Linked DNA regions of Homo sapiens: region 2 is linked to region 1. The links come from fine-mapping of genetic effects on gene expression. Tissue or cell type: whole blood. Region 1 holds a variant in brackets; the other region holds the start of a gene. All regions are shown on one strand. Distances are from middle to middle.

Region 1 (4,375 bases):
GCCTCCTGTTAGGATCCCCACACCCAGGTCCTTCTGGGCCTCTGCTGCACAGATCAGGTCTGGAAGGCTCCCTGGAGGAGGCAGCGCCTGGACTTGGACATCGGCCTGCAGAGCTGGCTTCCCTCACAACCCTGGGAAGACAGAACTCCTCAGCGGGTTGATGGGGGGGAGGGCGGAGCCTCCCTCCACGGCACCAGCCCAGTGCTGGGGGCGACACAGACAGCCAGAAGCTGGCAGGGGCCGGAGGCTCTGCCCCCCATGGGCTTTACATGCCGAAGCCCCCATGGCCGAGCTGGGACCCAGGGTCAGCCCAGGGAGGCCGCGAGAAAGGAGACTGTGGGCCCCACCCCATCACACAGGGAGGAGGTGCTGTGCCCGCTGTGGGGGGCAGCTGCCCCTCTCTGGGCCCTTTGGGTGGGAAGAGGCTTGGTGAGGTAGAAAGCCCAGCCCCAGCCGGCAGTGTTGCCTTCTCACAGTGGCAGCCCTTTGTAACCAAGGGGGGCCCTGCCGGGCCTCTCCTTGTTTCCTCACCATGGGGCAGCATTTGGGGACCTCTTGAGGGACCCCCTAGGTGCTTCTACTCAGAGCCCCCAAAGCCAAGGAGCCTCCACTCCTCCGTCTGCAGCCTCCCCTGCCGGTTCTCACTACCCAGGGTTCAGTGGCCTGGGGGCTGCCGGAGGGAGTCGCCTCTGCCAAGGCCCCTCCCGGCGCCTCCCTGGCTCATCCAGCCCACCTCCCTCCCACGCTGGCTCAGGCAAAGTGCTCTGGTCACCAGGAGCCCTTTCTGACCAGCCCCGGCCCCTTCTTGGCCTTCGCCCCACCTGGCCTCCCCTGGAGCCCTGGCCTGGGTGCCGGGCCTGCTGGGTCCAGAGCCCACCCCACCCTGAACAGCCCTGAGTCTCAGCCACCCTCTGTTCTCACCCATTTCACAGCTGGGGAGTGAAGACTGGGCCTGAGGTCTCGCTCCCGGGAAGGGGTGTCGGGAGACCAGATCCTCACCCCGACACTGCCCCCACTGTCCCCAGCCTGCCCCCACTGTCCCCGGCCTGCCCTCACTGTCCCCAACACTGCCCCCCCGTCCCCGGCCTGCCCCCACTGTCCCCAGCCTGCCCCCACTGTCCCCGGCCTGCCCTCACTGTCCCCAACACTGCCCCCACTGTCCCCAGCCTGCCCCCACTGTCCCCGACACTGCTCCCACTGTCCCCGGCCTGCCCCCACTGTCCCCGGCCTGCCCCCACTGTCCCCAGCCTCCCTCCTCTGCCGGCCTCCCTGCTCTGCCGGCCTCCCTCCTCTGCCGGCCTCCCTGCTCTGCCAGCCTCCCTCCTCTGCCGGCCTCCCTCCTCTGCCGGCCTCCCTGCTCTGCCAGCCTCCCTCCTCCGCCGGCCTCCCTCCTCCGCCGGGCTCCCTGCTCTGCCGGCCTCCCTCCTCTGCCGGCCTCCCTCCTCCGCCGGCCTCCCTCCTCTGCCGGGCTCCCTGCTCTGCCAGCCTCCCTCCTCTGCCAGCCTCCCTCCTCTGCCGGCCTCCCTCCTCTGCCGGCCTCCCTCCTCTGCTGGGCTCCCTGCTCTTCTGGTTGCCACCCTGATGGCTACTTCCTGCCCCACAACCACCAGACTAGCCCAGACTTGGTTCCAGCTTTTTCTTCTCAGCCTGCCTGGGATGGCCCAGGGCATGATTCTTCCATAGCCATAGCCTCGGTCCAGTTCCTCCCTCCTCCCTCCTCCTTCCATTCTTCTCCTTCTCCTTCCCTCCTTCCCTTCCTCCCTTCTCCATCCTCCCTTC[T/G]TCCTCCCTCTTCCTTCTTCCCTCCTCCCTCTATCCTTCCCTCCTTTCCTCCCCTCCTTCCTCCCTCCCTCCCTCCCTCCCTCCATCTTTCCTTAGCCAGCAGTTTATTTTGTCAGGTGCTAGGGACCCAAAGACGGAGGAGTGAGATCTCCTCCCTGCCCTTACAAATCTTAGCAGTTGCCAAGAAACCAGCGCTGACCCATGATGTGGATCAAGAAGCACAGAGGGGAGCTGGCAGGAAGTCTCTCAAAGGAGGGGCTCCTGTGCCTGCTCTGAGCCTCGGGGTCGCCGCAGTGGGCAGGGTCCTGGCAGGGAGGAAGGGGTGCAGTGGCCGTGCGTATGCCTAGCGGTCCCCAGGGAGGCACAGCCAAGGGGAGACAGAGCCGCCCCCCACCCGCACAGCCCTCCCCTCTCCCCATCCTCCCTGTATCCCAGATGCCAGCCCTCAACTCTTGATGACCTGAGGCTTGTCTCTGCCCCCTGCCTCCACCTCTCCCTGCCTCCATCTCTCCCTGCCTCCACCTCTGGGGAGAGGTGCACAGGGAGGGGTCTGTTCCTCTGGGTTCCTTACCCACCCAATCCGAACCTGCTTCCCCCTATACCCCCACCCCCCACCGCTGGGACTGCTGTCCAACTTGGGATGGGATAGGGTCGCCTCCTCCATTGCTGAAGCCCCCTGAGCTTCATGACCCACCCAGTGCTGCATGAGGGCCCTGAGCTCCTGCATCAACTTCGCCCCAGAGTGGTGATGCCAGGACTAGTCTGAGTGCGGGCCGGGGTGACTGCAGCCCAGGCATGCCCGCCACACACACCCCGTCCCAAAGGTGCCCACGCCAGCCGGACAGACCCCAACTCTACCAGCGCAGGCCAGGGTGACTACAGCCCAGGTCTGCCCGCCACACACACCCCCTCCCAAAGGTGCCCACGCCAGCCAGACAGACCCCAACTCTACCAGCGTGCACCGGGGTGACTGCAGCCCAGGCCTGCCTGCCACACACACCCCCTCCCAAAAGTGCCCACGCCAGCCAGACAGACCCCAACTCTACCAGCGTGCACCAGGGTGACTACAGCCCAGGCCTGCCCACCACACACACCCCATCCCAAAGGTGCCCACGCCAGCGGACAGACCCCAACTCTACCAGCACGCACCAGGATGACTGCAGCCCAGGCCTGCCCGCCACACACACCCCGTCCCAAAGGTGCCCACGCCAGCCAGACAGACCCCAACTCTACCAGCATGGGCTGGGGTGACTACAGCCCAGGCCTGCCCACCACAGAGACCCCGTCCCAAAGGTGCCCACGCCAGCCGGACAGACCCCAACTCTACCAGCGTGTGCCAGGGTGACTACAGCCCAGGCCTGCCCACCACACACACCCCGTCCCAAAGGTGCCCACGCCAGCCGGACAGACCCCAACTCTACCAGCATGCACCAGGGTGACTGCAGCCCAGGCCTGCCCGCCACACACACCCCCTCCCAAAAGTGCCCACGCCAGCCAGACAGACCCCAACTCTACCAGCGTGCACCAGGGTGACTATAGCCCAGGCCTGCCTGCCACACACACCCCGTCCCAAAGGTGCCAACACCAGCCAGACAGACCCCAACTCTACCAGCGTGCGCCAGGGTGACTACAGCCCAGGCCTGCCCGCCACACACCCCCCCTCCCAAAAGTGCCCACGCCAGCCAGACAGACCCCAACTCTACCAGCGTGCGCCAGGGTGACTACAGCCCAGGCCTGCCTGCCACACACACCCCGTCCCAAAAGTGCCCACGCCAGCCGGACAGACCCCAACTCTACCAGCACGGGCTGGGGTGACTACAGCCCAGGCCTGCCCGCCACACACACCCCCCTCCCAAAGGTGCCCACGCCAGCCGGACAGACCCCCAAGTCTACCCAGACACCCAACAGGAGGGGTGCCCGTGCAGCGGCAGACAGCGCTGACCAAAGGGCATCTATGACCCTGGAAACCTCATGGTGTGGCCTCCGCAGAGCCGCAAGCCTTGGCCCCCTGCTGAGACTGGAAAATGGAGCCTGGTTTCCCCCAACCCCTCTACCCCTGGCTTCCCATTGGTCCTCAGAGGCTGGGTCAGGGACCGTCCTCAGAGCAGGGTCCAGAACCGGCTTGATGTCCTGCTGACCAGCCCATCACCTCCCTTGCGCTGGGTGCCCTACCTCTTTTGATGTGCTCTGTGGTCAGCCCTGTGCCGGCAGCACCCTTGTCCCGCTCTGCAGCTGTTTCACATCTCTGCCCCCATCTGCGGCGACCAGCCTGGGTCGGAGGTTAGGGCCCCGCCCTGCTCGTGGGTGGCCCTGCCTGCTGCATCCCGGCGGCGTGGCTGCGGCTCTGCCTGCCCCGTGCCTGCTCTTTCTTCCCCCCTCCTCCTGTTCTGCGTGCTGTGCATATGGCTTTCTGTCTTCCTCCGTGTCACTAACCACAACGCTGCCGAGCCCGTGCCACGAGCGAGGCGACCTGCGGGACCTTTCTGGGGCCCTCGCCTGCACTCCGCGATCAGCGTCCTCCGCCGCAGCTCTCACCCTCGCATGCGTCTACATGCAGCCCCACTCGGTGCCTGCTTCCCGCAGGAGGGGACCAAGG
Region 2 (4,375 bases), 20 kb after region 1:
TCCACTGCTCCAGCCCCAGCTGAGCCTGCCCAGCCTGGGCCTTCCTGGGGACTCCCGTGTGGGGGCTTCCCAGGCCATACATCCCTGCCTGGGTGCAGGGGACTTCTGTCCCATCCTAGACAGGAAACTCCCCGGTTCCCTTAGTCACCTTGTGAAATGAGAAGCCTACCCCACTGGGGCTCTCAGTTTCATTCTGAAAGGTCAGGCTTGGCTGCGCACCCCATGCAATTCGCGGGGGCAGGGGATGTCCAAGGAGGGGGTCCAGGCTTTGCAGAGCCCAGGAGAACCGCCGCTCTCCAGCTGGAGCGCCTGACAGCCCCGGCACAGGTGCAGCCCTGGCCTCCCAGGATCTGCACCAAGATGCCCCAGGATCATCTGTGCCTTGGCCATGCCCGCTCCAACCCCCCCTCCCCGCTCCTGGCCCGGGGGATCCAGGGCATTTGAGACAGCTGGGAGGGGGTGGCCAAGGATGAGGCCAAGGAGGAAGGCGGGGGTGCCCCAGCCCAGAGGCTCATGTCCTGCCCTTCTATGGGCATGAGGTGACCAGGAGCAGCACCTAGTCCAGGGCTGGGGGTGGTGCTGACAGGAGGGCCCGTTTTGCAGCTGGGACACAGCTGTTGTGCACCCAGAAGCCTGTCTCCCTGCACACGGCCTGGGCAGGGCATCCTCCCACCTCTCCCTGGGGACAGGCACGGACGTCCCGACCCAGCCCTCAGCCAGCCCCGGCCTCTGCTTAGCCTCCACTCCACTCACGGCACTCGGGGTCCCTTCAGTGGCCCCCCGCACCTGTACCCAAGTGGGATTTGGCAGCAAGAAGTCAGAGATGCAGACCCCTCACACATACCAGACCCACAGCAATGTGACGGCCACCAAGGACACAGACACAGGACAGTGACTGCAGCCACCAACAGCACAGGAGCTTTGTGTGAAGGCCGGGAGGTGGTCCCTGCACCGCCCCGGGTCGGGTAGACCGGGACCCTCTGCTGTCAGCACCAAGGCAGAGACTGGTAGCAGCCCTGGCTGCAGTTTTGGGGTATGTGAGCGTCACCCTGGGCCTCCTCTCAGGTCCGTCCTGTGTGGCTGCGGGCATCACACTCTTTCTGCAACCTGGGCCCCAGCGCCTTCCCTTCCGCACACCAGGCCACAGCCCCCGCTGACCTGCTCCTAGGCCGGCCTCTATCCCCAGCACCGGATCCCCATCCCCTGACCATTAGCACGTCGCCCCTCTGCCCCTCAAAGCCCTACCTGTCCCTGCACCGCACGCCCTGAGCCCTCCCATCTCTTCTGGGACCTGCACCGGGGGCAACTCGGGTTCCCCTGGCGAGGCTCAGCTGTGATGCCTGGATGCCTGCTGGCCGGCAGCTCCCCTCTGCCAGGGAGCCCAGTTACTAAGCCGCTAGCCCTCTCCACCCACCCCAGCACAGGGCTGGATGCCCATTGGTACCACAGAGTACAGCTGCCCGCTAGGAGGCCTTTGGCAGCGGGGTTTTTCTGCCCAGCTCTGGCAGTCCTACACACAACCTCTGCCATGCCCCCTCATGTCCCCACTCCAACCAACACACGGTGCCTGGCACCCAGCACAGGCACCTGCCAGAATCCTTGGCCTTGTCCTTTACCGCAGGTCAAGGGCAGCTTTGGGTGCCCTGCCCTGAGGCCTGCTGGGCCCCAAGCCTGGCGGCCTCCAGACCCTCAAGGCAGGATAGCCCCTCTCAGATAGTCCTGTGGGCAGGTGGCCAGGCCCGGGCCAGTTCCACCCATCCCAGAACAGCTGCTCCCCAGCCCCCACCTTGCCTCTTCCCAAGCTAACAGGGCCCACAGTCCCCAGCTCCTCCCTGGCAGTCCAGGACACGTCTTGGGGTCTCCTCGCTTCAGGCATCCACCATGGGCTTAGGATCCCACGCGCCTCCCCCAGTGAGTCCAGGGCACAGAGGCAGGCGGAAGAGACCTCCACCCTTGTTGTGAGAGGGGGGTCCCAGCAAGACTTCCTGCCACCTGTCTGTGGGTCCCCAGTTTCCCCATCGGACATCCAAGTTCTCCCATTGGGGGCCCCAGATTCCCCATCAGGCACCTCAGTTCTCCACCCTCCATGCAGCTCAAGGACTATGCACCCGTGGACACGGCACAGGGCGCCGGGCGTCGCCGCAGACCCTTACCCCAGCAACTCTTCCCGCTCCTCGGCACCCGGGTCACTCGAAGCCTCCGCCATCAGCCTGTAGTCTGGGCCCCACAGGGTGCTGGCAGATCCCTGGAGTGGGTGTACGTGCTGTGGCTTTCAGTGCTTTCTGGGGCGGCTTCTGAGCCCCCACCCCCAGCCGAGTTTCACTTCCCCCTTCCGGCTGCAGGTTGAGGTTTGGAACCTGTCTCGGCTTGGGTCAGGGTGTTGTTTTTTAATCTGTTGCTACAAGAGGAGAGGAAGAAAAAAAAAAAAACCCAAACCACCCCTCAGGAAGCGTTAAGCAAGTTACAGGGGCCTGGGGTGACAGAGACGGGGTGCGAGGGCCAAGATGGCCGCAGGCAGCTCTTCATGGCTCGGGGAGGGGGACCCATGTTACCCCTGGTCCCCGCTAGTAGCTCTGGCCATCAGGTCCACCTGTGAGTGGCCAGTTCTCCTGCAGCATCAGGGACAAACACGTCTGTGATCCCATAAGCACCACGTGAGCGTTTTAGCTTCTTTGGGTGAAATCTACCCAGAGGCCGGCTCTCCTACAGGTGCTCATGGAACTTGGTGGAGTCTTTTCTCGAAGCCTGGGGTCATAGCCTTGAGCACATCAAACAGCTGTGGGTCCCAGGTGGCTTTGGGGGCTGTGCCCGGGATGCCCCTGCGTTCTACCCGTCGGGTGCCTTGTTCTGTCTTGGACTGCCTTGCTGATGCCGAGCTGTCGGGCATCCGCCTCGTCCCCCCGCTGCCCCTTGCTCTCCGTGCTCTGGTCGCTGGAGTTGACCACCGAGTGGTTCGTGTCCCCAGGCTCTAAAGGCAGTGCCTCAGGGACCCTCCCAAGAGGCATAGGCCAGCCCGAGGGGAGGGATGGAGGCTGTTTCCAGCCCTCACTGTCCCCAGCTTCTGGGAGTGACCACGCAGTGGCTCCAGGGTCAGGAGGAGGGATGCATGACTGCAGGAGCCAGACCCCAAAAGCTGAGGCAGGGGAGGACTTAAGCTGGGCCAGAGTAGGGCAGCCACAGAGGTGGCGAAGGCTTCCCTGCTGGAAACCTCAGCGCAGGAGAATGGGAGAAGGGAGCCCTGGCCAGCGGCTGGGCCTGAGAAATCCAACCAGCAAGGACTTACAGGGGGTCCCAAGGCAAAGAGGGGCTGGAGAGAGGCCAGGGGTTGGGAGGGCCCTGGGCCCAGAGTGTTGACCCATCAGGGTGGGGCCGAACCGGAGGCCGCCTCCTTGGGACTCAGCGAGCCCCCCACCCACCAAACACACCACAAAGACCAGCAGAGGCTTTCAGAGCCCCACGAGTGGAGGCACCAGAGGGATCCGTGGCCCAGACGATGGGCAGGGCTAAAACCAGATCAGGCCCAGCGCCATGGAGATGAACAGGCCATGCCTGTGTCTTCCCCACGCCTCCTCCCTGGGGGTCCCTAAGGGCCCCCAAGTCCCCCTTGCAGAGTGGCACATGGCAGAGCCCTGCGGTTCTCACCATGCGGCCTCCATCCTGAGGCCATCCTGAAACGGCTCCCCTCATGGTGGTAGGGTCTCGCCTCCAGGTTGCAGCCATTCCGCTCACCCACCCGTCCAGGCACTGCATCGGCAGGTGCAATGCCTGTGTCCTCCTGCCCTTGAGGTCCTTCCCTTGGCCTGCAGAAGGGCAGCCCCAGCATCGTCGCTGGGAGCTTCAGGAACCTTGCCAGGAAGAGGACAGGCAGGTGGAGGCTGGGGTCCACCCCCTCCTGCCCTCTACTGCCCGAAGGCTGGACCGGCTGCCTCACTTTTGGAGCTAGAGCAAAATGAGAATGCAGAACCCTGTGGTTCAAAAACTGAGAATTTTGGCCGGGTGCGGTGGCTCACACCTGTAATCCCAGCACTTTGGGAGCCCGAGGCAGGTGGATCACTTGAGGTCAGGAGTTTGACACCAGCCTGGCCAACATGGTGAAACCCCATCTCTACTAAAAATATAAAAATCAGCCAGGCGTGGTGGCGGGCGGCTGTAAGCCCAGCTACTCGGGAAGCTGAGGTAGGAGAATCGCTTGAACTTGGGAGGCGGAGTTTGCGGTGAGCCAAGATCGTGCCACTGCACTTCAGCCTGGGCGACAGAGCTAGACTCCATCTCAAACAAAACAAAACAAAAACAAAAAAACCCTAAGAATTTCAAGAGGGAGACACAGAGCACAAAACCACACTCAGCCCCAGGTCTACGAAGCCGCTCGGGCGGA

What was found. PIP is the estimated chance that this variant, and not a neighbour inherited with it, causes the effect.
Region 2: it holds the start of LSP1, and the variant in region 1 is fine-mapped to the expression of LSP1 in whole blood (INTERVAL, PIP 0.92).

Annotation. Positions count from the first base shown.
Region 1 is chr11:1,870,989-1,875,363 of GRCh38, reverse strand. The region is part of intron 1 of LSP1 (lymphocyte specific protein 1); the gene reads right to left. Among named protein-coding and RNA genes, the nearest start is that of MIR7847, 6.9 kb to the left of the region's middle. RefSeq lists enhancers at 3,687-4,224, 4,225-4,375. The variant T/G (reference allele first, on the strand shown) is at 1,780.
Region 2 is chr11:1,850,976-1,855,350 of GRCh38, reverse strand. It overlaps LSP1 (lymphocyte specific protein 1), which reads right to left and starts at 2,267. Exons shown (of 11, transcript NM_002339.3): 1 at 2,154-2,267. The coding sequence starts at 2,206. RefSeq lists enhancers at 1-325, 2,176-2,495, 3,487-3,536.